Regions from separate parts of the Homo sapiens genome. Here regions 1, 2 and 4 are each linked to region 3. Evidence: fine-mapped expression QTL. A gene starts in region 3. Each other region holds a variant in brackets. All regions are shown on one strand. Distances are between the middles of the regions.

Region 1 (7,609 bases), 250 kb before region 3:
CCACATGGTAAGCTTCAAAGGTATTTGTTAAGTGAATAAACAAATAAATAGCAGACACTAGGAAAGCACTGAAATATAAGAGTTAACCAGATCAGGCCAGGCACAGTGGCTCACGCCTGTAATCCCGGCACTCTCAGAGGCCGAGGCAGGTGGATCACTTGAGGTCAGGAGTTCAAGACCAGCCCTGGCCAACACAGTGAAACCCCGTCTCCACTAAACATACAAAAATTAACCAGGCGTGGTGGCGGGAGCCTGTAATCCCAGCTATTCAGGAGGCTAAGGCAGGAGAATTGCTTGAACCCAGGAGGCGGAGGTTGCAGTGAGCTAAGATCACGCCACCGCACTCCAGCCTGGCGGACAGAGCGAGACTTGTCTTTAAAAAAAAAAAAAAAAAAATTCTTTGCAACAATGAAGTATGTGACAATTATGCTCACTGTTTCCTTCTCCAGATGCTCCCAGCCCACAGCTGGTGCTGTAACACTAAACCCAGCTACAGGCTGCTGTCTGGTGTCCTCCAGTCATCTAACATCAGCCTCCCAATCCCACCAAAGCTTTTCCATGGGATGAAGGAGTGGGGTCTCCCTTTGTGCCTGGTTCAGCACCACTCACGTGGCTGATGCTCAGCGAAGGCGTGCTGACTGCTGCTATAGGCAGGACAGGAAATAGAGCTAGGACAGAAGTATGGGGAGGTGGGATGCATTTTAAAGGGTAGGGAGACACCAAGCATGAGGAAGGTCTGGTAGAAGAAGTATTGGAAGGCAGAGGGTAGGGGCAGAGTTTTAGGATCAAGGTAGCAGCCCCTGGGTATAGAAGGACACACATACCAACAGGTTTAGCAACAGGTACATTCCCCAGGTAATAGACTTGGAACTTCTGGACCAACTCATTCTTAGGCGCTGGGAATTCCACTATGGGAAAGAAGAGAAGGTTGATCATGGTGGCAGACCTTGCTCACCCGCAGCCCCACCAGCAGGGCATAAGCTGGACACTTGCCCAGCCGAGGCCCTACTTTCATCTCGTCCCCTGCCTCCCTTTAACCGGAGTCCCTCCACGTATTGGAGTATTCAGTCTTCATGTGTTCATTTTTCTATCAGCGCTGTCCAGGAGCTCATGCCTTTCCTTGGGTCACCCACCTTTGCCAACAAAGCTGAGCTGGACCTGGAGGGGTTTTGACACTGACCTTGGAAAGGGACATCCACAAGTTTAGAGTGGTCCAGGGAGAGTCCATTTACCAAGCAGCGGGCATTACGCCGTTCGGCCATGATCTGAGGAAGGAAGGGAGGCGAGGAGCCAGGGAGAATCTATTAGAGCCTCATTGCCCTGGGGCCCCCCTACAGCACTCAGTGACCCCACCCACACCCTTGTAGAGCAAAGGTGGCAACTAGTCCAGGGAGTGGAGGGGGCCGTGCCTTAGAGCAGATCTCATGCAGGCTGGTGGCGATGTTCTTGGCAGGTGCCTCACAGCGAAACACGTGGCACTTGAGCATCTGGGTCAGCTTATCACGAGCTACGTAGGCAAAGTCCCTGTTGGGGAAGGGGCACCTCAGTGTCTCCCAGTACCATCCAGTGCTGAGCCTGGTCCCCACCCCACCCACGTCCTCCCTGCCCATCACAGCTCCTCCAGGGCTTCTGCCCACAGCTGGTCCCCCATAGGTGCTGCCTTCTTGGGGGGGAGGGGTAGACAGGCAAGCATGCTGAGGTGGAGGGTAATGGTGGAGCATAGCGGGTGGGAAGGGGCAGGGCAGAAGAGGGGAGCTTGGGTGCTTCCAGGCATCTGGTCCAGGTGTAGGAGGGGGAAAATAGGCATAGTACCTCTCTCTGGGTCCAGCAGCACAAGAGAGGCAAATAACAGAGTTAGAGAGGAGGACTCTGATGCTGGATGAACTCCCACCCTCGAATCCCAAGCCCTATTCCCACCTTCCACTGTCCCGCCCGACGCCCCACACGCGGATGCTGATGATGGGTTGGGCGTGCAGCAGTGCCTGGCTCTGTGGCTCCACTAGCTTTAGTGTCTCATCCTCCAGCTGCAGTAGCAGATCCTTTCCCTGCAGGACCAGAAGCAGGCACTCAGTGGGACTCCAGCCAGGATGGTGGCTGATCTCTGACCCCTGCAGCTCAGGGGATGTTAGCCACAGCTCTGGGGCCCCTGCTTTGGTGTCAGACCGCCCGCCCTGCAGGCCTCACTCTAGTGGAGGTCACGTGTCATCTCTCACATTGACTCCACCGTTGTTAGGCGACTATCTCCCAAGGTCCTGGCCTGGGGTCGCTCATCCATCCCACAGGGCTGCCACTTAGGATGGGCCAATATCCCCCTTCCCCAGCCTGCTTGTGGGCAGGTCAGACCTCCCATCTCTCATAATTCCCTTCACACTCTCACAGTACCACCCCCTACCCCCGGCTCAGGTCCTTACTTCCCCCCAGCCCCCAGACATGGGGTCATGCAGGTTGTTTTTGTGGTAAGAGAGCTGACGGATGCAATTGTTGACTGCCACACTGCTGCGTCCAGGGGCCAGCTCCTCCTCGGTCATCTCTACCCAGCCTAGGGAGCGCACGGCGAAACACTGCCAGACACAGAAGAGGGGCAGGAGGTAGAGGATCTGAGTCAAAACTGGAGAGTTCCTGACTACAGAGTGTGGCAGGAGGCAGGGTGTTCTGAACTAAGACGGAGAAGCTCCCCAAACAGGATGTGGTTAGGGAGAGGGGGATGTGGTTAGGGTGAGGGAGATGTCAGATGAGACCCCAGCTAGTACAAAAAAGCACCTGAACTAAGACTACAAGGGCCCCCAACCTGGCTGTTGGGCTGGTTGATTTAAAAACTGAAGTGCCTCCAGCTCAGACACAGGGCTCTGTGCTGAGACTGGAAGAACTCCTAACTCAGGACCTGGGGAACTGCGCTGAGACCCCTCAGAGCACAACATTAGGGGCTGTCTGACAAATAAGAGGGCCCCAGACTCAGAATGGGTGTCAGTCTTGAACAAACCTTGATCCCTGGGTTGGTATTCCGTGGGGGAAGCTTCTCCTCCTCTTGGGGCAACGGCTCTGGGCTGAAGGCAGATGGTAATACTTGGCACAGGGCTCCCATAAATGGAGCTGTCCCAAGGCCCCTTCCAGACAGATCCATCCCACTGCCAGCTCACTGCATCTGGCAGCTCACCTGAGGCTCTGAGCTGGGAAGGTCAACGTCCCCTCCTCAGGTTCCTTCAGTCCCAGCTCCATTGGGGCCTCATCACTGGGTTCATCCTTGGGAAGGGGATTGAGGAATCAGTATCAAAATGATGCCCCTCCTCCAGCTATCCCGTGGTAAAGCAGGTCCCCTTACCCACCTTCCAAAATTCTCCATCCTCAAAGCCTTCTCCATGAGCAAAACCTGTCCAGGTGAGCTAGGAGGAGGGATGGGAGTAGTGAGTGAGTGTCCTATCCTACTCCAGCAGCACACACTCCCTCCACCCCTGGCCCAAAATCAACAGGCCTGTGAGCCTCACCTGGGACTCCTCTTGGGGGCTGCTCCCCTGTGAGGGGGAGGCCCGGCCGGGGGGTTCCCACTGGGTGGTCCCTGTTGGGATGTGCCAGTAATAGGTCCCTGAGGTGTCCTGGACCCTCATCCATCCAGCCGGCAGGTCGGAATCCGTCTCGAAGGCGTTGGGGTTCCAGAAGGAATCTGCCAGGTGGGAGGCTTGGTGAGGGTCAGCCTACCCAAAGAGCAGACAGCTGGTGCCTATGCCCGGTCCCCTCTGAGACCCCATGGTTGAGAAGGGGTGGTGGAAGAGCTATACCACAACACAGTTCCTGCTTCTGCCTAGAGCCTATAGTCTGGAGTCACCACATGTGGGGCCACCAGTAGGGGACATGGCTCAGGTCTCCTCCTGGGCCCTGTTGGTGGCTAATGTGGCCACACTGTGGAAAGGAGGAAGGCAGGGAGGGAAGAAGGAAGGGAGCAATGAATGTTGGGTGACCCCAATTAACCTCCTTTCATAC[A/G]TATCTATTATCTCAGTTAACACGAAGGTGAACACTTTCTAGCTCCTGCACACGTACATGTATACACAGACACACAACACATACAAGCCCTACCACACACCTGTGCAGCCACAAACACCAGGGTATGCAACACAGAAAATGCCAGCACAGATGGCAGGTATCACACACAGGTGCACATGTATGTGCAGGGGCACACACACACAAACTTTAGCCATACACTTATGCAGACACCACAGAGGTGTGTGTGCATGCAGCTAAACATACGAGCCCCTGCCACACAGGTGTGCAGATACCACACCACAATGGCCCCAACACACGTGTGGGTACCACACACACAGGCGGACCCACACTCAGACACACGGCACACGTCAAACCCTGCCAAATGTGTGCAGACACCACAGACGCTCACTTCCTGACCCTTGCTGCACACAGATGCAAGCAAACATGTCATGCACATACACACATACCTCGCATCTGTGTCATACACCCTTGTCTGCCGGCAGAGCCACACCACTCCAACCCTGTAACCCGCTCATGCGTCCTCTAACTCTTCTCTCCCTGTCAGCCCCACCCCACATGAGGCCCAACCTCATGCTGCCCCTCACCTGCGCTGCTGTCCTGCAGGATAATGGCCAGGAAAAAGTCCTGGGAGAACATGGCGCTCATTCCCGGCCCCTCCTGCCTCCACCCTCCCTCCTCACAGCCCCTCCAGCCCAGCCAGCTGGGCTCACAGCCTGGTGCTGGGCTGCAGAGAAAAGCTCATCCCGCCCCCTTCTCACCAGGGCAGAGCGTCTGCCAGGCAAGATCCTCCCCCGCTTGGAGCTTGCTAGGGAGGGGCCAGGACCACCATGCTAGGGAATCTCCTTGGGGGGTGGGGAAGGGAGGAGAAAGGGAGGTTCATGAGACCCCAGCCCCTTCTGCTCACACCTCTTCTTCCTCGCCCTGGCTCCCCTCCCCCAATCCTGAATCTCCATCCCACCCTCCAGTGGTTACCTCAGTGCCTAAGCCAAGCCCAGTCTTAGGGATACCAGGAGACTCAGCCCCTAAGGAATACCCCAGCTGCCTGGGGCCCTGCAGAGCCTATAGCTGTCAGCATAAATAGGGTGTGGTTTCAAGGCCTTCAGGGATCCCGCCCCTGTCCAGGACCTGCACAGCAGTTTGAACCCAAGGGTGGGCTTTGAGGTCCTGAGCCCCAGCAAGCTTGAGGCTGGGCTTGGGGCTTCCCAGCACCACCCCCCACCCCTCACCTGCCAGGGCCCAGCTAGGCTGCAGCGTCTCCTCGGCAACCGCAGCACCAGGACCGGCTGGGAGCGCCCAGACTGCTGACGTGCTTCCCGTTACCAGGGAAACCAGGAATCCTGACTGGTCCAAGAGGCAGTACTAAGGGACAGGCAGTCCCAAGACCCTGCTGCTGGGCAACCAGACACAGCAGGGCTGGGAGTGGGCGTGGTTACGCCAAGGTGGCTGCACACCTGACGAGAGTTATTCAGGCAGGGTGCTTCACCATCCTCAGCTTCCAAATGACGTGGGCCCACAGACACCCAAAGAGGAGGGGCTCTTGCCCATCCACCTTCTAGGCAGCCATCACCGCCTCTCCTCACCCCCACTTCCCCCTAACTCACACTCTATGGAATAAGGTTTTCAATAGGCACCTGAAACTTAGCTGAGGCTCAGGGAATACCTGCTGTTCCCTAGAGACCCTCCATTGCCTCAGGACTCTCCTGCTAAAACCTTCCAGGAACAGCACCCTAGGGCCTCCATGCCCTCCACAGCCACAGCCTGCTTCATGAGGGCTGGCTGGACACTTCTGGAATCTGGGGACCAGTTCACCATCTCCTGACTGAGTCACACACACCAATCCATCTGCCATCCCTGTCAGCCTGTACCTTCCTGCTTCAAAGAGCTTCATCCTTCCGATCTGTCCTGGAAGGGCAGTTTCTCCCCCCTTGGCCATCTGGGAGGCCCTTCTGGAGCTTGGCACATCTCCCTCCAAGCGCAGCCCACCCCGGCCTTTGCTTTCACACACATGCATTTATTCCAGAACGCACACCTTCACTCCTGCATCGATTCATGCGACACTTACATATAAAATACATTAAATGTTCACGTATCATTCCTTCCTTCCTTCATTCGTTCATCCACAAATGCCTTAGTGGTGAAGCCAGGTGTACTCACTTGCTCAGGAATCAGTGATTGACTTAAAGCTTTCCCCTTCTCTCCACCCCACATAACTAACATAGCCCAGGCTACTAGCTTTTTTTTTTTTAACCTGCATCATTGCAAAAACATCATAACTGGTCTTTCTCTTCCTATCTGGTCTCCTCCAATCTCAGCTGCACAGTACAGCCCAAATGATTCTTCTGAGATGCTAAACTAATCAAGTAATTTTCCAACGGAATCCTCTTAATTGTTTTGTCACTGCCCTCAGGATAAAGTCCAAATTCCTCCCCAGGTTTTATGTGCTGTCATGAACCCCTGTCTGCCTCTCAGCCTTACCTCCAGCCACTCCCCTTCTCTCTCTTTGCTTGGGACATGCCCCCTTGTCCTCTCCCAGCCCACCTCCCTTACTCTCGATTTTCACCTGGCTATCACCTACCTCTCCTTCAGACATCAGTATACAGGTCCCTTCTTAAAACTGACCCATTGCCCTCTCCCCCACCACTCTCACAGGCAGGGTCAGGGGCCCCTCCTGTACTTCCCCAGCCCCAGAGAGCTCATCGCACTGATCATAACCACTTGTTTCTTTCTTTGTCTCCTCACCAGGCTGTGAAGGCCAGGAGGTAAGAACATCTTTGCCCCATAGTATACATTTCCAGCATTTACGATAAGGCCTGGAGCAGAGTATGAATTCAATACAGGTAGTAAAGTTTATTCATTCATCATTCATTTAATTCATGAATTCATGCATTTATGCATTCAATCCATAGCTCTATGAATATCCTACAATAGGAAGGAGAATATAATTTTTGCTCAATTCTAGCCTCATTTCTGCAGGAGCACAAACCTTCTCTGCAGCCCTCATGGTCATAGCAACACAGTTGTAAAAGAGTGACTTGGCCCCTTTCCTGGGCTGGCCCCCACCTCTATCCTCAATTCACAATGTCTCCACCAGTGCATGATCCTTGAGAATCCTCTTGCCACTCCAACATCCTTGCTGAGGTCACTGCCCAGCAAACCCGCCCCAGCTCTTCAGCAGTACTATCCCCCTACTCCTAGAAGCTTCATAGGTAGTTCAGAGTTGCAGCCCCCACAGTGACCATCCCAGGGGCAAGTGAGCAACTAGGCCTCTATTTGGTCACTGACTCACACCCCCTAGTCTTGCAAACTTCCAACCTACAACCTGCAGACTGATGCAAGCCTCAGATAGATTGTGTGTGGCCTGCACAGTGCTTTTTAAAAAATAGAATTTGTTGTTAACGTTTAGAAATTGGGCTATTTTACACCAATATCTAGTTTTCAGTTTCCCTTTAACTGGCTGCATTGAGACTATATTTTTCCTCACCCCAATCCCAAAAATAATCAGCTGGAGTGCAGGAGGGGCTGTTCCTTTTAAAAGGAGTTGAGACAATGACCACCAAAGGCCACTAACATCACAAAAAAGAGAGGCAATCAGACTTTGCCTTTAGTAGAAGTA
Region 2 (7,609 bases), 140 kb before region 3:
TAATTCTGTAATGAGAATTAAACGACACTGTGAATACAAAGTGCCACATTCAGTACCTCTCAGTAGACACTGAATAAATGATGCCCATTGTGACCATCCTGTCTGATTATTAGGAGTCTTTATCCTTTTCAAGGATGTTTACAGTTGTGGAGTTCTCTGGGGCTTGGGAGGTATGGATAACAGGATTGGGCTTCCTCAGGGATGGGCAGCCCACAGAGAAGTTCCAGTTTCATCACATTTGATCCTAAAACTTACCTGTCCACCTAGACTTTTAGGACCTTTAGCTTTCTCTATTCCAAGGAAGAAGCCTCTGCTGTCTCTCCTTCTAAGTCAGACCTTGGTATCTATTTGACCCTCTCTTCTAGCAGAGAGATCACTAGGTATAAGCACTTGCACATACCCCAAGCCTTTTCTCAGCTTGTATAGCTGAGAAAGCAGCTTTATGGGCTTATACTCTTTCAGAGAACTCTCGAGAGGGAGCTGTCACTATTGGTCACTGTTGGTAATATTACAATCTCTATAAATATTTGTGCAGTCTGAGGTAAGCTAGGCTGAGAAGAGGTCAAAGGTATCCAAGGAAGGATTGGGATGCCAGCTCTGACCAGCTTAGTCCTTGATTCTAGGCTTCTGCAGGAGCTACACTCTGTGTCCTGGCTACCCCAGGAACTGGATCGGTGCTATGAGCTGCTGGACCTGCAGACGGCTCTAGCCGAGGAGAAGCATAAGGCTCTACGGCTGCTCCATCGTTGCCTAAACCTCTGCACATCCATTCTTCGACTGGTAAGAGGCTCTTAGTTTATTGTGGACCTCTTCCCCAAGTTGAGCTCCCCAGAGTTTCAGCCTCCTCTTAGTTAAGTTTCTCCTGGAATCCACTGTATGACCTGGACTCTACAGTTGAATCAGAGCCATTTTCCTGCCCAGCAACAGCAGTTTCTGCTCTAGGATGGATGAATCAATAACAGGTGTGCAGAGGCTTGAACTAGACCTTTCCCTAAGGGTTGATCTTGACCTAGGAGCAGGGAGGAGAAGGAATGTATCAATGTCTATTTTGTCTGTTGTTTATGCTGACCTTTGGGAATTAGGGAATTTGAGAACAGGAATCCTGGTCTTTTATGCTGCTGAGCTTATTTTTGAACCTATCTTGAACCTTTGGAAGGCCACTGTAGTTAGTGGAAGGATGCAATGATGGAGTCCTTCTTAATTATGCATATGTTGCATCTGTGATGCACAACCCCTGCCTAGAGTTCTGGGAGGCCCTCCTGTGTACTGACCTCTTGCCCATGGTCTATTATCATGGTTTGTTGTCAGGTGGGGCTGGATATTCACACAGGACTGTGGCTAATTACCATGTGTAGATAGTCCGGTTCTGAGAGAGGAGGCCCACTCAGATTTTGTGAAAATAACTAATTAATGTGAAGGAGGCATACCTTGCCTGGCTTGAGCCAGGTTTTGGGTTCTACATGTTGCTCTAAACTCCATCAGAGGAGGTTAATCACAAAGGACAGAACTCTGAAGTCTCAAAAATGGCCTCAACTGCAAGGAATTTCTTTTCTTTTTCTTTCTTTTTTTTTTTTTTTTTTTTTTTTTTTGAGACGGAGTCTCGCTCTGTCACCCAGGCTGGAGTGCAGTGGCGGGATCTCGGCTCACTGCAAGCTCTGCCTTCCGGGTTCACGCCATTCTCCTGCCTCAGCCTCCCAAGTAGCTGGGACTACAGGCACCCACCACCATGCCCGGCTAATTTTTTTTGTATTTTTAGTAGAGATGGGGTTTCACTGTGTTAGCCAGGATGGTCTTGATCTCCTGACCTTGTGATCCGCCCACCTCGGCCTCCCAAAGTGCTGGGATTACAGGTGTGAACCACCGCGCCTGGCCGACTGCAAGGAATTTCTGTTCCTAGGAGGAACCAATAACTTCTGTTGATTGCTCTGGTTGAAATCTTAAATATTTAAAAATACCCGTAATAAAACATTTTCATAAAATTTTAAATAGTCAAATTCCTTCCCCTTCTAAGAATTACCTGTCCTCTTTATCCTACTCTGTTTTCCTTTTTCTGTCTTCCTTCTCACCTTTAAAAATACTATATAAGTTACTTACTATTTTTACTAATGTCTCATGATAGGTTGTAACCTCCACAAGGGTAGAGATCTTTGTTTTGTTCACTGATGTATCCCAGGAACCTAGGGATATTATTGAACGTCTTTACACAAAGAGCCTCTGCATTTTTACGACTTTGCACTGATTGGACTCTTCAGTGATATCTTCTTTGGATGTTTTAGAAGAGTGGCTAAAAAAGGAAATTCATAGTCTCTCTTTAGGAGGTTTAGAGGAAAGGGGCCAAAGGCATTAGCAATGTCAAGATCCTAAAGCCAAGGTGCAGGAGTGAAAAGGAGGCAGTGGCCTTTAGCTTCCAGACAATAAATGCTGGACCTGCCATTGTACCAAGCTGAATGAGGCAGGAGATGGGGGTGAGCTGCTCCACAGCCTTTCTCTACCTCTCAGTTCCTCAATCCCACCTTTAATGTTATAAAAATAGTTATAACTTTTTGAAATTCAGTAGTCAATTTTGTATATTAAGGTATAATTCATATACAGTAGACAAATTTTAACTGTAAAGTTGTTGAATTTTTTGCATTTGTATTTGTATTGCTATATATTTGTATACCTGGATCACGATAGAGAACATTTCCAGCACCCCAGCAAGCTCCCTGGTGCCTCTTTCATTGATACCCCCGCAGAGGTAACCAGTACTCTGACCTGTGTCACCACAGGTTAATTTTGTCTCATTTTGAATTTCATGTAACTAGAATTGGACAGTGTGTGCTCCTCTTTGCCTGACTTTTTTCACTCAACATTATGTTTGTGAGATTTATCCGTAATGTTCTAGGTAGCAGTGGTTTACTCTTTTTGTATAGCTACGTAGTATTTCACTGTATGAATGACCACAATTTATATATTCATTCTTCTATTGTGGACATTTGGGTTGGTTCCAGTTTTTTACTATTATGAATAACACTGCTGTGAACATTCTTGTACATGTCTTTTGGTGGACATAAGCATTTATTTTTTTGGGATATATATGCCAGGAGTGGAACTGCTAGAATAGAATATATGTATGTTTTATACTGCCAAACAGTTTTCCAGAGTGGTTGTACCAGTTTACGTTTCCATCAGTGATGCTGATTTCCAGCTGCCTTTCATTCTTTTTTTTTTTTGAGACGGAGTCTCATTCTGTCGCCCAGGCTGGAATGCAATGGTGCAATCTTGGCTCACTGCAAGCTCTGCCTCCCGGGTTCACACCATTCTCCTGCCTCAGCCTCCCAAGTAGCTGGGACTACAGGCACCTGCCACCACGCCCGACTAATTTTTTTTTGTATTTTTAGTAGAGACGGGGTTTCATCATGTTAGCCAGGATGGTCTCAATCTCCTGACCTCATGATCCACCTGCCTCAGCCTCCCGAAGTACTGGGATTACAGGTGTGAGTCTGGCTGTGTCTCCCAGGCTGGAGTGCAGTGGTGTGATCTCAGCTCACTGCAACCTCCACCTCCTGTGTTCAAGTGATTCTCCTGCATCAGCCTCCCAAGTAACTGGGATTACAGGTGTGAGCCACAACACCCAGCTAATTTTTATATTTTTAGTGGAGACAGGGTTTCACCATCTTGGCCAGGCTGGTCTTGAACTCCTGATCTCAAGTGATTCATCTGCCTTGGCTTCCCAAAGTGCTAGGATTACAGGTGTGAGCCACTGCACCTGGCCTCAGTTGCCTTTCATTCTCACCAACACTTATTTTTTTTCTTTTCCCTCCCTCTCTCTCTCCTCTCC[CTCCTT/C]TCCTTTCCTTTCCTTTCCTTTCTCCCTCCTTCCCTCCCTTCTTTCCTCCCTTCCTCCCTTTTTCTCTCCCTCCCTCTCTTCCTCCCTCCCTCCCTCTCTTCCTTCCTTCCTTCTGTGATTTTGTATTTTGATATAATTTCAAACTTATTAGAATTGTAAAGATAGTAAGATAAACTCTCACATACCCTTTATATAGATTGTTATTTTTCCCATTTCCTTTATCATTTATGCTCTTTTTTTATAAACATGTATACATTATTTTCTAAATAATTTGAGAGTCAATTGAAGGCATCAGCCCCCTTACCCCTGTCTTAGTTTGTTTTCTGTTGCTATAATAGAATACCAAAGACTGGGTAATTTATAAAGAATAAAAGTTTATTTGGTTCATGGTTCTGGAGGCTGGGAAGTCCAAGAGCATCTGGCGAGAGTCTCATCCCATGGTGGAGGGTATCACATACTGATGAGACATGAATATGAGACAGAGAGAGGAGAGAGGAAATCAGGCAAAACTCATCCTTTTTATCAGGAATCCATTCCCATGATAACTAACCCACTCCCATGATCAGAACATTGATCCCTTCATGTGAGTTAAGCCCTCTTAGCTCATTGATCCCTTCATGTGGGTTGAGCCCTCTTAAAGACCCCATCTCTTAAAACTGTTACTATGGCAATTAAGTTTCCAACACATTAACTTTTGGGAGACACATTCAAATCATTCAAATCATAGCAACTCCTGTATATGTCAGTATGTTTTTTCTGTGAATGAGGACATTTCATTTTATAACTATAGTACAATGATCAAAGATTAGGAAATTTCACTCTGATACAACTCTGTTATCTAATCTCCAATCTTTATTCAAAATTTGGCAATTGTTCTAATAATGTCCTTTATTACTATATTTTTTCGTTCTTCAGGATCCAAACCAGAATTATGTATTGAATTTAGTGCTCACTTCTGTTTAGTCTCTCTTATATGGAACAGTTCCTCAGCCTTTGTGTTTTCCTTACTTGCTTCAAGGCATGACAACTCTGTAATACGATTGGAACATTCCAAGCCTCCTTCCCCACTCCAGATGAGACCAAAAATAGAATTTAGCTGAGATCTTGCTGGGTACTTTCCCCTTCTCTTTTCTGCTTTTTTTTTTACTCCTGTAGAGGCTCTTGTTTCCCTGAAGATCATTCCTTCAATAAATCACATTTCTCCCAATCCCTGTCTCAGGGTCTGCTTCTGGGGAACTCAACCTAAAAGAATATGTATTAGGCCAAGCTCATTCACTGTTTTATTCAAATATTCTATAGACACATTTTTTTTTTTTTTTTTTTTTTTGAGTCAGGGACTCACTCTGTCACCCAGGCTGGAGTGCAGTGGCATGATTTTGGCTTACTGCAACCTCCACCCCCTTGGGCTCAAGCCATCCTCTCACCTCAGCCTCTTGAGTAACTGGGACTACAGACATGGGCCACCGTACCTGGCTAATGTTTGTATTTCTTTTATAGAGGCAGGGTTTTACCATGTTGTCCAGGCTGGTCTCGAACTCCAAGCTCAAGTGATCCTCCCACCTCGCCCTCCCAAAGTGCTGGGATTATAGGCATGAGCCACCACACCCAGCCAAGACACAATAATTTTTTAACCTCCATTGTCTTTCAGTTTCTGAGAGGTATATGTTAAATATCCCTTCCTACCTACAACTATAGATTTGTTCATTTCTGCTTGCTGTTCTTTCAGTTTTTGCAACATGTATTTTAAAATCATATTTTAAACTCATTTTAAAATACATGTTTTCACTCTCTTTTGTTTTGTCATAGTACTCTAATCACTTTTTTTTTTTTTTTTTGAGATGGAGTTTCATTCTTGTCGCCTAGGCTGGAGTGTAGTGGCGCAATCTTGGTTGGCTCACTGCAACCTCTGCCTCCAGGGTTCAAGTGATTCTCCTACCTCAGCCTCCCGAGTAGCTAGGATTACAGGTGCCCACCACCACGCCTGGCTAATTTTTGTATTTTTAGTAGACATAGGGTTTCGCCTCATTGGCCAGGCTGGTCTCAAACCCCTGACCTCACGTGATCCGCCCACCTCAGCCTCCCAAAGTGCTGGGATTACAAGTGTTAGCCACCTCGCCCCACCAGTACTAACCACCTTTTTATGTACACCATAAATTATGTATTTATTATGTTTGCTGTCTCTCTCCCTCCTCCTGGAGGGGCAATGACTTGAGCACTCATTCACTAATATATCTCTAGTGCTTACTGTAGGGTATGCCATTTAGTAGGTGCTCAGTAATTTTTGTTGAGTGAATGAATGACAAGTATGAATTTTTAACCATATCGTTCTCCCAAGCAGAATAAGAACCTTAGCATTATCATACTTTCCTTTCCCTTCTCTCTTCCTCCCTCTATTCTTCCCATTACTCTTATATTGGTATCTCCTGGAATCTTCTTCAAGATTGTTATGAACATTCTTGTTTTATAACCTACTCCTTTGTCTTAGTCCACTCAGGCCTCTATAACAAAATACCATAATCTGGGTGGCTTACAAACAACAAACATTTATTCTTGGAAGCTAGGAAGTCCAACATCAAGGTGATGACAGATTCAGACTCTGGCAAGGGCTCAGTCCTCATAGGTGGCACCTTCTCACCACAGAAGGGACTAGCCAGCTCTCTGGGGCCTTTTAAAAATAAAATTGACAAATAAAAATGGAATATATTCAAGGTGTACAATGTGATGACTTGATAGATGTATACATTGTGTAATGATTACCACAGTCAAATTAATTAACACATCCATCACCACACAGGCTGTACATTAGATTCCCAGAACTTGTTCATCTTATAACTAAAAGTTTGAACCCTTTGAATAGAACTGTCATATGATCCAGCAATCCCACTTCTGTGTATATACCCAAAGGAAATGAAATCAGTATCTCAAAGAGATATCTATACCCCCATTTTTATTGCAGGATTATTCACAATAGCCAAGATATAGAAACATCGATGTGTCCATCAATGGATGAATGATTAAAGAAATTGTGATATTAATACATATATACAATGAAATATTATTCAGTCACAAAAAGAAGGAAATAATGCCATTAGTGACAACACGTATGAACCTGGGGACATTATGCTAAGTGAAATAAGCCAGACAAGGAAAGACAAATACTGTATGATCTAGGACTTCTTTTTTTTTTTTTTTTTTTTTTTTTTTTTTTTTTAAGGGCACTAATCCTATTCCTGAGACTGGAGACCTCATGATCTAATCACCTCCCCAAAGACTCCACCTCATAATACCGTCACCTTATGGGTTCAGATTTCAAAATATGAATTTTGGAGGGACACAAACACACAGGCCATAGCACTACTTAAAATTAACAATATGTCTCACAAATTTCTTTGCCCATCAAATCTTTTGTAGAATACTTTATCCTCTTGGATTCATTTTCCTCTGCATGGAATATATTAATACTATTCCTAATTGTTTTAAGGGAGAATCTGTGGATGGAAAATTTTCTGAGTCTTTGTATATCTAAAAATGTTTTTATTTATCCTCAAACTTTAATGATATTCTGGCTAGGTATAGAATTCCAAGTTTTTTATTGTTATCATTACTTTTGAGACAGAATCTCACTCTGTTGCCCATGCAGTGGCATGATCAGGGATCACTGCAGCCTCAACTTCCCGGGCTCAGGTGATCCTCCCACCTCAGCCTCCCGAGTAGCTGGGACTACAGCAGTTGATACCGCCACGCCTGGCTAATTTTTTGTATTTTTTGCAGAGATCGGGTTTC
Region 3 (7,609 bases):
AGATGGCCTCAATTTCCTCAGTGAGCCAGAAGACCAGGTTGTCCACTCTTAATTCCTTCCTTTCCTTCACCCCACCATGTCTGCTTTGTCACTGAGCCCTGCTGATCCCACTGCCTAAAGAGCTCTTGAAACCATCCACTTTCTCCTTCTCTCCGGCCACTACTCCAGTTCAGGCCAGTGTTATACCCTCCAGAGTTTCTGCAACAGCCAACTGTCCTTCTTCTCAGGCTCTTTCTCCAGTCTCCACATGGCTGTCAGAGTGGTATTTCTAAAATGAATCTGATCATATCGCTCCAAGCTTCCAATGATTTGGTGACTCTCCATTATTCTTGGGTTAAATGAATTTCTTTCTGTGGCCTCCTAGACCCTGCATGGTCTAAGCCTCCATTTACCTCTCCCACAGACTCTCCCTCTCTCGTCACCTCATGCTGTAAGTGTCAGGCTCACTGAACTGCTTTATCCCTCACACACACACTATTTTCCTTCATGTGGGCTTTTACATGCTGCTCCCTTGGCTTGGCATATTCTCCACCCACTCCATCAAGTTTAAGTTTAAATGCCACTTCCTCCAGAAAGACTCTTCTGACCTCCCTACACTGGCCTAGGTTACTCTGCTGTGTGCTGCTGTGTTACAACACTCACTCCACAGCCTGTAAGCTCCATGAGGATAAGGACCATGTCCATTTTGTTCACACTTGTGCTGCCAACTCTCATCACAATGCCTAGCAGAGTAGGTGCCTAGTATGTGTTTGTTAAATGAATGAATTAGCGTTTTGATTAATTAATCTACTGAAAACAATGGTGTGAGGGATGTGGGGTAATGAGTGTGAAGAAAATAGAAAAAAAATCATCTATTTATTTATGAAGGGCCCAGTTGAGGTTTGAATTTTTTAGAAGTATGAATTTATAGAAGCGTCCCCTGGTGTGGTTGAGAAATCATTCTAGTTAGGGGCAATAATTTGAGGGATGAGTATAGAAGACAAGGAAACACAGTGGCCAAGGAGTGGTTGAAGGGATGATCCTTAGCATATGAGCTGGAAAGAAAGCACAAAGTCAGAAAGGAACAGAGTAGGAGAAAACAAAGAGGTCAAGGGCAAGAGGTCATTATGAGGTCAAAGAGTGTAATGGGAGCGAGAACATCTGAAAGCTGGAAGGATATAGGAGGTTGTGGGTAGAGAGAGGAATGCAAGAGTTTAGAATTTTAAAGGTGGAATAGTTCTACAGAGTGGTCCTGGGAGGGAGGAAGGTAACAGGAGCTAAGGAGGTCAAGAATCTGTGAAGCTGTGGTGTTGAAGGACACTGAGAAACCATGGCAGGATACACTATCCAGATCTCGAAGTTTTCAGGGAACAAGAGGGTATACCTGGGAGATCTACGTATGAGAAGGGGTGAAGGTGTGAGCTTGATAAGTTAAGCAGAGTTTATTCAGAAGTTGGGACAGGTCTTCCTGTGGTGTGCATGCCATCCATGACTGTCTCCTGGGGGTTGTACAAGTGGCTGTGTGGTAAGGGCAACTGTGGCACAGCCTCCTGTTAGTGACAGGCTTCTAGGACACCCACTATGTATGGGCAGCTCCAAGGAAGTAAACCTAATAAGATGTGCTGTGACAGTTGTGACAGTGCTTCTGATGGATGTGGATTGCAGTGACAATGTCTCCTGAGAGGTGCTGGTCTACTTGTTTGTTGCTGGTGACAGTGTTTCTGGAGAGTGTTAGCAGTAACAATGTCTTCCATGGTATGTGTTGGCCTTGACAATGAACCGGTGGGAGTATGTTGGTTGCAGCATTTCTCCTGTGGGTGTGTGTTGTCATGAGAGCATTTTCCGTAGGTGTGTGTTGGCTTGATAGAGTCTGCTGTAGGTGTGTGTTGGTTCTGACTGGGGGTGCTTCCTGGGGGTGGGCTTCCTGGAAGTGTATGATGGCTGTGAGGGTATCTCTTGAGGATGTGTGTTCCCTGGGACTGTGTCCTCTTGTGGGTTGAGTAGGGCTATGACTGTGTCCCTATGGGTATTTGAGAAGTTGACATAAGCGACAATATTTTTCTGGCCTATGACCTTGTGGCTGTGGGCCCAGCCCGCCACACTGAGTTCATTGTGCTTCTAGACCTCCCTCTCCCCACCCCCTCCACGTGGGACCCACGCCTGCGGTGACCTTGCTCTGTCCCCTGCACGGGATTCTGAGCTGGGTATCCCAGACACAAACTCCCAGTTGCTCCAATCTCCCACTCAGAACACGTCTGGGTGACCCCCCCCTCCATCCACTTCAGGCTGTGCCTGCCTCTCCTCTGCTTCTCTGTACTTCTCCCCACTCAGTTTCTTTGTCTCTGTCTCAGTTGGTCTCTGTCACACACCCATCCTCCACATTCTGACACATGGGCTCCCACAGAGCGGGCAACACACCCTCACAGGGACTCGCTCACCATGACACACGGTCATTCTGACCCTCACACCCTCAGAGTGACACGCACATGCACACACAGCCAGAGAGACGCCCAGGGACACACAACCTCCCAGTGACACGCACTGACACACTCCGACGATGCACTGGAACACAACGCTGTCGCACCCCACACCCCCGGCGCACGCTCCCGCCGCCACCCTCCCCGACTCGATGACACACGCACACAAAGACCCCCAGGCCCTGCCCCCACGCTCACGTTCACGCCCGCCCGGGTCCCGCAGGCCCAGGCCCCCCCTCCCCCATTGTCTCCGGCTCAGAACAAAGCCCCCGGCTCCGCCGCCGCTGCCGCAGCCCAGGGGAGGCCGGCGGGCAGGGCGGGCGCGGCCAGACGGGCCGGGCGGGCGCGGGCACTGACCTCCGCGCGACGCGGGCTCCCTCGCCCGGTGCTGGGGCGCCGTCCGGCCGCGGTCAGCCCCCCGGGCAGCGCCCGCTCGCGCGGGGCCTGAGGCCGCGCATCGTCCGCAGTCGCTGTCTCCGAGGCCCGCGATCCCCTCCGGGCAGCCGCCGTCGGTCCGCGCGCCCTTGGCCGTCGATCGGTCCGTCCGCTGACGCCCGGGCGCCGCCTCCTGCACAGCCGCCCCGCCGAGGATGCGAGCTCCGCTGCCGCGGCCCCGCGCCCCCTCCCCTCCCCTCCCCCCGCCCTCCGCGCGGTAACCCGAGCCCCCGCCCCTCCGCCCGCGGAGCCCCCGCCCCCGCCCCCACCCGCGCTCCGCGCCGCCGCCCCCCCTTCCCCCCGGCGCCCGCCCGGCCTCCCTCCGCCCCTCCACTTCCCGGCCCCAGGCCCCGGCTCCGGATCCGGCCCCAGCGCCGCGCCGCGCCCCCGTCCCGGTTCCCTTCCCTTCTCCCCGTCACTTCTCCCGTCCTCTCCTCCCATTCGGTTCTCTACGCCCTCTCGTCTCTTCCCCTTCTCGCCGCTCCCTGCTGCTCACCTCCTCCTCTTCCATCTTCTTTCCATCCCCTATTCCCCTCTTCTCCCTCAGTGCCCTGGTCTCCCTCTCGCCCCTTCTTTTTCCCAACCGTCATCTCCATTCCCCTCTGCCTTTCTCCCATCCTCTTCTTCTCGCCCCATCTCCATCATTTTCTCCCCAGCTCTTCTCCCCTTTCTCTTCTCCTTACCCCTTCTGCTTGATCTCTCTCCAGCCTCTTTACATCAGATTCTCCTTCCCCACCTCTCCTTTTATCCTTTTCTTCCTATCCCTTTCTCCCCGTCTCTTCTCCCCACCTTTCTCCCCATCCCCTTCTCCCTGTGTCTTTCGCCTCACCTCATCATCCCCTTTTCCTCACGCCTTCTCCTCATTCCCTTTTCTCACCCCTGCCCTTTTCACTACCCGCTGTCTCTTCCCCTTCTTCCATCGTAACCTCGGCCTTCTCCCCTGTTAGTCACTTTTCATTATCCCATGATTTCTGTCTCTTTTCTCTCCTTCACCCCCAGGCTCCCTTTCCCCCACTTTCTCTTTATCCCAAATTTGAGGGTAGAGATCGGGAGATATTGGAAAGAAGAGCTTTGGGGATGGTGGTCCCACTCACGATATACTCCCTAGAAAAATTAAGTGAGGAGGAAACCGGGCAGGGAAGTGGGAAGGGGCTCAAAAAACCAACTTGGGAGAGAATATGGGGAGAGGGGAAATCAGACAGAGACAAAGAGCAAGCAATCTTAAAGGAACTGGGAAGAGTTCTGACTCCTGTCCTTCTTCCTTAGGACTGCGAGTAGACTGTGAGAAAAACAGGTTTTCTGGACTTGAGATGTGTACAAATGGCACAAAGAAATCAGGAACTTCTGTGGAGAAGGAACACAGTTTCAGCTGAAGAAGAAGGGAGTGTGATTTTGGAAGAGGAGTGAGGGAGAGACTGGGGTCCTTGATCATATCCACGGCGCTTGGGCAGCTGGGTGGATGGATGGTGGTGAGGCTGGCTGTGCTCCACAAAAGGAGCAGCAGGAGGCTGCAGGGGGTTCGTATGAGGAGATGATGACTGTGACTTGGGGCTGCTGACTTTGAAGTGCTGGTTGGGTAGGTAGGTCTGCAACTTAGAGGAGCGGTCTGGGATGGACATAAATATTTGGGAGTCATCTGCAAATGCCGTATAAGCTTGAATATAGGGTGAAGTTTTTGCTTTTTTGTTTTTCCAAAATCATCCCTCAGGAAAGAGGGAGTAACCTTATATTTGAGTCCTTACAAGGTCTCTCATATTACAGGGTTTGCTCTCATTTACTTTATTTTGAACAACAAACCACTGGATAGGGCAGTATGGTATGGTGACTAAGCTTGTGGACTCTGGAGCCAGACTCCCTGGCTCGGGGTCCAGACTCTCCTATTTACAAGCTGTGTGGCACTGGGAAAGTTACTTAACTTGTCTCTGCCTCAGTTTTCTCATCTATAAAGTGGGCCTAAGGATTAAATTATGTAATATATATAAAGCACTATATACCTGGCACTATATGGTAAGTGTCCAATAAATGCTAACTATTTTTACTGTTTGGCTAAGACCCATTGACCTGAAATGTCCTCAACAATGCTATTTTGGATGTATTGTAGTCAAAGAAATTTAACACAGCTTTGGTAACTATTCCTGGTAGTATGACCTCATAATCGCATGTGTTGGATGTCTCAAAATATGCTTTTTAAAGATTGCTTTAAAAAGCAATACAGTAGTACTTGGAAGAGGTTTCTGGGCTGCCGAAAATGTTCTATTTCTTGACCTGAGTGGTTATATGGACCTGAGGGATGTTTCACTCTGACAGTTCATTGAGCTGAATATTTATGATGGCTTGTGGCCTTTTCCATATAGATGTTATATTTCAGTAAAAAAAGTTAACAGAAATATAATTTTTAAAAAGTATTACATTAAGTGATGTTTTGAAGTCATGAATATACTCAGGCAGGGTGCATGCAAAAAACCAACTGTTCTAGTGTGATGCAAAGGAAACTTGTGACTTAGGATAAAGTTTCCAAGGACTGCATCATCTGTGAATTCAAACTGTGCTGTGTCCTCTCCCAAGCCCTTCGCTTAAACTGAAGAGAAGGACATCTGTTCTGGGAAAACATGTAAGATGGCTGAAAAAGTGATCCTAATGATGAGAAAGACACTGCTTGTGTTGAGTATGCATAAAATTGCTTCATAATTTATGAGAATGGAAAAGACAATATTTATCAGTTATATATTTTTATATGATATATGAATTTAAATATATGTCCAATAAAGTCCATTAACTCATAGAAGTACACTTTTGATTGTTTCATCCTCATCCTTAAAGGTTTACATTTCTAGGTTGGTTGAAAAGCTTTTTGGATCTTCTCACTGGGAAAAATGAAAAATTACTGTTTGGGCAAGACCCATTAACCTGAAATGTCCTCAACAACCCAATTTGTGTTGCTTTGTATACAGTAAGCTGTATTGTATAGTAAGTGTGACAGATGGTAAGTGAAGGTAAGGGAGTGAATGAGATTACAGAGGGAGAGCATGTACATTAGGAAGAAAAGAAGGTCTAGGACAGATGCTGAGAAGCTCCAACATGTAAAGGTTGAGAAGAGGAGGAGCCCTCAAAGGAAAGTGAGAGGATGTGGCCAGACAGGGAGGAGAAAGAAAGGGAGGTGAGTGGTGCCACTGAAGCCCAGGGAATGGCCACAGAAGAAGCCATGAAGTGAGGAGAGGTCATTAGGTTGGAATGACACAGAGGAGGCCAGTGAGGTAAGGACTGAAAAGTATCCATTGGATTTGGCTGGGGCCTAGGGGGCAGGCTGGTGACCTTGGGGACAATGTGGTAGGTGGAGTGGTAAGGATGAAGGCTAATTAGCACTCAGTAACTAAGGAGTGAGTGGAAGGTGAGGAACTGAAGACTTGGAGTAGAGCTTATTCTTTAAGGAGGCCTAACTACAGGGGAGGAGAGAGACCTATAACTGGCGTAAGGGATAGGAGTTTTAGGGGGTCAGGAAGTTTTTCAAATAGAAGAATCCAAATTCATTTATTTTCTTGCTTCCTTCATTTATTGAAGATACATTTAGGTGCCTGCTATGTGCAACTTTATAGTTAAGATACAAAAATTAAGACATGACTAAGGAACTCATGGTAAGCTGTGAAGACAGACCTCTCAACTGACAACAGAAGGTACAATAGAGGAGAGCATGGGGTTGTGGATATAGGGGGCTTCCTAATCCAGACCAGGGCTGGGACATCAGCAAATAGTGTCACAGAGATGACAATGGAACTGGATTTGAAGGATTAGAAGCATAGCAGAGGGAAAAGTTAGAGAAAGGACTTTCAGGCAGAATAAACTGACATGTTCAAGATCACAAGAGCATGAAAGAAAATAGCTCTGGCCATGAAGGGTGGCATCCAGGCTTCAGTGGTGGTGGTCCTGCACAAACTGGCTTGGCTGGAGTGTTGAGCATATGGGCTAGTGTGGGAAGCAAAAACAGGAAAGGTAAATGGAGCCAAATCATGGACAATATATGTCATGCAAATGGTCCAGGCTCTGAGGAGCCATTGAAGGGTTTATTTAATAAGATAAATGAAATGGACAGGTTACGTGTCATCAACATAATTTTGGCTATTCCCCAGCTTATAATGAGGGTCTAAATTAAGGTAGTGATAGTAGGATTAGAAAAGAGGAGTAAGATAAGAGAGAAATTACAGGGATAAAACTACTAGAAGTAAAGGGTGTAGCATGGGAGGATTCTAAGATGGCTTCCATGTTCTTGGGTCGTACATTAGTGATGCTACTTAGGAAGCTGGGGAAGCAATAGAGAAGCAGGTTTGTGGGGAAAAGGTAAGATGGTGAGTTGAGTTTTGGATATAAGAGTCGAAGATGTATGTGAGATATCCAAATAAATATGTCTAATAGGTGATTGAGTATAAAATTTGGAACTCAGAAGAGAGTTGAGCTGAGGGTAGATATTTCAAAGCAGTTATTTTGCAGGTGGTAAGTGGAATCATGAGAATGGATGTGGCCACCCACAGAGAGCATGAAGTGAGAAGAGCATCTAGGCAGCCTTTAAGACATGGGCAAAAAAAAGAAGAGTCATAAAAGAGATTGAGAAGAAGCAGGCAACAAGGTAAGACTTAAATGAAAGTAGTATCTGGGCCAGTGCGGTGGCTCACGCCTGCAATCCCAGCACTTTGGGAGGCCAAAGTGGGCAGATCATGAGCTCAGGA
Region 4 (5,000 bases), 27 kb after region 3:
TGAAGAACAAACCATAGTAGAGAAAAAGAGATAAAGAGCTCTGTTGGGAGTAGATGAGTATCAGACTAAGGCAGCTACAGCTAAATTAGCACCAGAATAGTTCGTTCTGTCACTGAAGCCATGTCTGCTACACCAGTGATCCCTTTACCCTTACTCTTACTTATTATCTCAGACAGTGGATGGGTTCAGTGGGCCAAATACACTCAGAAGATAGAGCCTAAGATAAAATCTCTTCTACCCACTTTACTGGGGATATGGCAATTATCAGGCACTGCTATCAAGTGTTTGGACCAAGACTGATGGCTCCTTTCTAAGTCCTTCCATAACTACTACCCTACTAAAGCCTCTGAACCCAAGGGAACGGCAGCCTGGCTGTGCCAAGAAAGGGGCTCCCAGCTTCTCACATTCTGAAGCCGGATTTCCCTTTTCTGGGTTCCCAGAGAGGCCAGATTTGACAACAATAAAAACTTCCAGGAAATTCCTAGGAGGTTTAATTTCCTAATCCTTCTCTCGCATAGACCCTCTTTCTTACCCCTTCCCCTCACCAAGAGGAAGGAGCTTATCCTGGAGCCCAACATCCTCTGCTGAATGTCTCCACCCCTTTGGCCAAACTGGTGGAACATCTGAGTTCTTGGGTCCTCTCCTCCCAGGCCCATTCAGGGGGTTGAAGGGAACACATTAAGGTAATGTGTGATCCTGCCTCAAAACAGAGGACTGATTGCAGTATCCCCTGAAGGTTCGCAGGGTACTAGATTGTTTAAGGAAGTTTCACTTGCAGATTGTCACTCCCCTACCCCTGTCAGGAAGTAATCTTTCTCTAAGAAATCCCAAGCACTCATCTCTAGGAGACCAGATGTCAAAACACAACCACCTCTGGCAACATTTGGAATTATAGGATGCATTCCCATGTAAACTGGCATTAAGAAAAACAAAATTGCACTAACCAAAAATAACCCAAATTTAAGGACCAGAAGCATAAGCCATGAATTTACTATCTCAGGTAGACTGAGCATTTGGATAATTCTCATTCTCCAGAAATCCCACAGGAAGGAAAAAATAAATAAATTTATATATATTCATATAAAGACTTTTATCTATTGTGCAAAGAGAGGGTCATCTGGCTCCCCAGAAGGTTCTCAACCCCATCAAGACTGTCCATTTTACATCTCTAGCTCCAGTTCTTCTCAGAGAGTAAAAGTGCTCCAAAGGCCTGTGATCATGGGTACTGATTAAGGGCTGCAGACTCTTCAGATCCAGTTAAATCCCTGGTGTTTGAGCTGTGTGGGAGCTGTGGTTGCTTGCTTCCTGGCTTTGCCTGAGGTCCTGCCGCAAACCCTGCAGCAGCTGGTTTAGGAGTGTAAGGTGGCTGTCTCTGCGAGGCAGAGGCAGGGGTGGGAGGCAATTCCCTTTATACTCGATCACTGCCATCTTGGCCCGATCCAAACTCCGATTTGGGATCTGCAGCATTCTTGTGTAGCCCCCAGTTTGATCTTTGTACCGAGGGGCCAGTACTTGAAACAGCTTTGGGATCAAATCCTTCTCCTAGAGGGAGAATTATCCAAGAGACAGCAGAGTCAGGCAAAACTGCAGAGGCATTTAACTTTACACCATTCCCAAAGGTAAGGTCCATCCACACATAGAAAGACCTCCCCCTCCCCTCGCCAATCTGGCATAGTCAGTGTTACACAAAGGGGTCGTTTATAGGCAGTTGTGCAGAGGTATATTCACATCGACTTCAACTAACTTAAGACACAGTTTCTAATTTAGTTAGCAGCACTGGCCCATAAGTGAGTACCCAAGTTTAATTCTGCATAGTTCTCCTTTTTCCAACCCCCACCCCCAGGGAGCAAAGGGTGGGATTTTGAAGGCAGATAGGTCGCACTCACTGTGAGCCAGAAGTCAGCCATGCGCATGGCTCGTTCGTTAGTGTCTCCCAGCTTCCCATAGTCGATGAGCTGTGAGGACATAACATCACGGATCCAACCGAGCAAGAAAACAAGGTGCCAATCTAATTTCTCTAATGCCGGAAGGCAATCCATTCTTTCCACTAGCCAAGCATCTCCAATCTACGCCACCCCTAACTCCGCAGCCCTAACCAGTCTTCCATTAGAGGCGATGGAGGGGCGGGTTCAGCCCAAGGTTCTGGGGGACTCAGACTTGGGGAATGGTTTACCAGGTTGGTCCCGGTCCCTTTCCACTTGCAGCCGGCTCCGCCCCCTCAGACCAGACCCGCAGAGTGGACAAGAGGGCCGCGCTCCTCACCTTCTCCGCGTAGCCCCTCATTTCGTCCACACGCGCCCATGGTGCCTCGATGCGTTCGTGCCGCACCAGCCCTGTGAGCAAGTTCCGCAACAGATGGATGCGGGACTCGGGACCGAGGCCCATACGGCGAAATACGCGGCCATGGGAGATCGCTGCAGCGACCGACAGCCGCATGTTTCCAACTTCTGCCCGCCCCTTGGAGGCCGGAACTGGAAACTGGAAGGTAGAGCCGGTGGCGGCAATTTCAGGGAACGCA[T/G]GCGCCTTAGCTCGGAGCGTGGTGAACGTGTTTGCGCATGCGCATCAGAGCCTGCCTCGTTGGCAATCTCGGGAAGGGCGGAGAAACGGTGTTGAGCTTTTCCAGAGGCGGCGAGCTGGGCGGGCTTCAGGCATCCAGAGCGCTCTGTGGCGGCCGAAGAACCAGGCGCCCCCTAGTGTGGGATAAGCGGGCCATCGGGTTTTTTTTGGGGCTGCGTCAGCCAGTGGCATTTAGGGCGATGGGGCGCTCCGCCGCGGAGACTCCTGGGAAAGAGAGCGTCTGAAGAGAAAGGCACCCGGAGGGTTCGGGGTCCTGCGGGCTGACGGCCCTACCGGGTCCAGCAGTGGCCAGCTGGCCTGGTTGACACCTGTACGCATTGTTTTTAACACAGTGATTTTCAGTAGTAATGGTGAGATGGATAATAACGATGCCCGGAAAAGAAACGCAGATAGTGAAATTTTTCTTTTATTGAAGTAATCACTCCAGTTAAAAAAATTACAGCACTAAAGGGAAAAGTAGTAGATTGTTTTTAATTACACCAGTGTGTCTTTTTAAGGGGAAAAAACATACCTACACATTTATGTGTTAATGAACAATAATATTATAGTTTGTTTTTGAGCCTTAACATCTGCAAATTGGCAATGACTGTCAAAATTATTCCTTGTTATGGGTTGAATTGTGTCTTCCCCATGATTCTTCCCGTCCCCAAAAAGCTATGTTAAGTCCTAACCTGCAGTAACTCAGAATGTGACCTTATGTGGAAATAGGGTCATTGCAGATGTCATTTGTTAAGATGAAGTCATGCAGGCATAGGTGGGCGCCTAATCCAAAATGCCTAGTGTCTAGCTAGCTAGATAGATAGACACATATATACGTACATACATATATGCAGGCCGGGCACGGTGGCTCACTCCTGTAATTCCAGCACTTTGGGAGGCCGAGGCGGGCGGATCACCTGAGGTCAGGAATTCGAGACCAGCCTGGCCAACATGGCGAAACCCCGTCTCTACTAAAAACACAAAAATTAGCCGGGCGTGGTGGCTCATGCCTGTAATTCTAGCTACTCGGGAGGCTGAGGCAGGAGAATAGCTTGAACCCGGGAGGTGGAGGTTGCAGTGAGCTGAGATCGGGCACTGCACTCTAGACTGGGCGACAGAGTGAGGCTCTATCTCAAAAAAAAAAAAAAAAAAAATGCGCATGAAGAGAGAGAGATGGACACAGGGTGATGCTGACCAGGTAAAGACAGAGACATACAGGCAGAAAGCCATGTGACCTTGAAAGCAGAGATTATGGAGTCAAGCAGTTGCAAATCAATGAATGAACACCAAGGATTGCTGGAGCACACCTGAAGCCAAGGGAAAGGTATAAAACGCATTCTTTTTCAGATCTGTCAGAGAGCATGACCCTGCTGCTAACACATCGCTTTCTTACTTCTAGCCTCCAGAGCCACAAAACAATAAATTTCTGTTGTTTTAAGTTCCACAGTTTGTGATAGTTTGTTACAGCAGTCTTAGGAAATGAATTCACTCCTCTTTACATGTACATATTCAGTAGACGTATAGATTTGTCACTTTGTCAGCTTATAGGTGACCAAAGAACACTTCTTTGCTAATTTTAATTTTGAAAAGTTTCTTTAATATGAAGGAACAAATATGCAAATAGGAAAAGTCATGAACATATAAATACATTGACAGATTTATACAAATCACACTTCACAATTAAAGAAATTTACAATAAATTACAGAAATTACAATTACCATTCATGTTTTGTTTCTTTGGGAGCAATTCTTGTAGTTTTCAATTGTCTTTGCAGTTGAAAAATTTCACTAAGATGTTTTCACCAGGATATATATATATTTTTTTGAGACGGAGTTTCTTTCTTGTTGCCCAGGCTGGAGTGCAATGGTGCGGTCTCGGCTCACTGCAACCTCCACCTCCTGGGTTCAAGCGATTCTCATGCCTCAGCCTCACAAGTAACTGGGATTACAGGCGCCCACCACCATGCCTGGCTAATTTTTTTTGTATTTTTAGTAGAGACGGGGTTTCACCATGTTGGCCGGGCTGGTCTCGAACTCCTGACCTCAGGTGATCTGCCCGCCTCAGCCTCCCAAAGTGCTGGGATTACAGGTGTGAGCCACTGTGCCCGGCCCACCAGAAAATTTATCATAAATTTCTATTGGTAAAAACTTGTGAAGAGGTTCTTCTTCAGCAAAAATTAGGTGAAATGAAACATTGATCCATTGTCTTAGAAAATGCTTACACTTGGTAAAAACAATTGTAGCATCAAACACTGTCCTTTTGACTTTTTCTGGCAATACAAGACCGTCATCTCTTGTCTCTTCTGGTAGTCTTCAAAATTTGATTCTTTTTTATATGTCAATTTCCTTACATTTTGTTTTTGCAGCATTACTACTGGCTTTCTCTGCAATTTCTGTGGGCTGATATTAACGGAACAATTTTTTTTTACAGTCCAAGGGTCTTT

The links.
Region 1: its variant is fine-mapped to the expression of DCHS1 in whole blood (TOPMed, PIP 0.93).
Region 2: its variant is fine-mapped to the expression of DCHS1 in whole blood (INTERVAL, PIP above 0.99).
Region 4: its variant is fine-mapped to the expression of DCHS1 in whole blood (TOPMed, PIP above 0.99). The same link has a PIP of 0.9 or more in blood mononuclear cells.

What each region holds. Positions count from the first base shown.
Region 1 is chr11:6,400,165-6,407,773 of GRCh38, forward strand. APBB1 (amyloid beta precursor protein binding family B member 1) reads right to left here. Exons shown (of 15, transcript NM_001164.5): 3 at 3,483-3,658; 4 at 3,324-3,380; 5 at 3,155-3,240; 6 at 2,981-3,044; 7 at 2,412-2,561; 8 at 1,918-2,045; 9 at 1,813-1,818; 10 at 1,410-1,524; 11 at 1,181-1,265; 12 at 825-908. Among named protein-coding and RNA genes, the nearest start is that of SMPD1, 13 kb to the left of the region's middle. RefSeq lists a silencer at 5,155-5,449. The variant A/G (reference allele first, on the strand shown) is at 3,976.
Region 2 is chr11:6,510,650-6,518,258 of GRCh38, forward strand. DNHD1 (dynein heavy chain domain 1) reads left to right here. Exons shown (of 43, transcript NM_144666.3): 7 at 624-780. Among named protein-coding and RNA genes, the nearest start is that of DNHD1, 17 kb to the left of the region's middle. The variant CTCCTT/C (reference allele first, on the strand shown) is at 3,821.
Region 3 is chr11:6,652,750-6,660,358 of GRCh38, forward strand. DCHS1 (dachsous cadherin-related 1) reads right to left here and starts at 3,060. Exons shown (of 21, transcript NM_003737.4): 1 at 2,814-3,060.
Region 4 is chr11:6,680,861-6,685,860 of GRCh38, forward strand. MRPL17 (mitochondrial ribosomal protein L17) reads right to left here and starts at 2,480. Exons shown (of 3, transcript NM_022061.4): 1 at 2,263-2,480; 2 at 1,887-1,955; 3 at 1-1,542. The coding sequence starts at 2,436. The coding sequence ends at 1,258. It also overlaps the pseudogene RPL21P94. RefSeq lists enhancers at 2,022-2,784, 2,201-2,640. The variant T/G (reference allele first, on the strand shown) is at 2,519.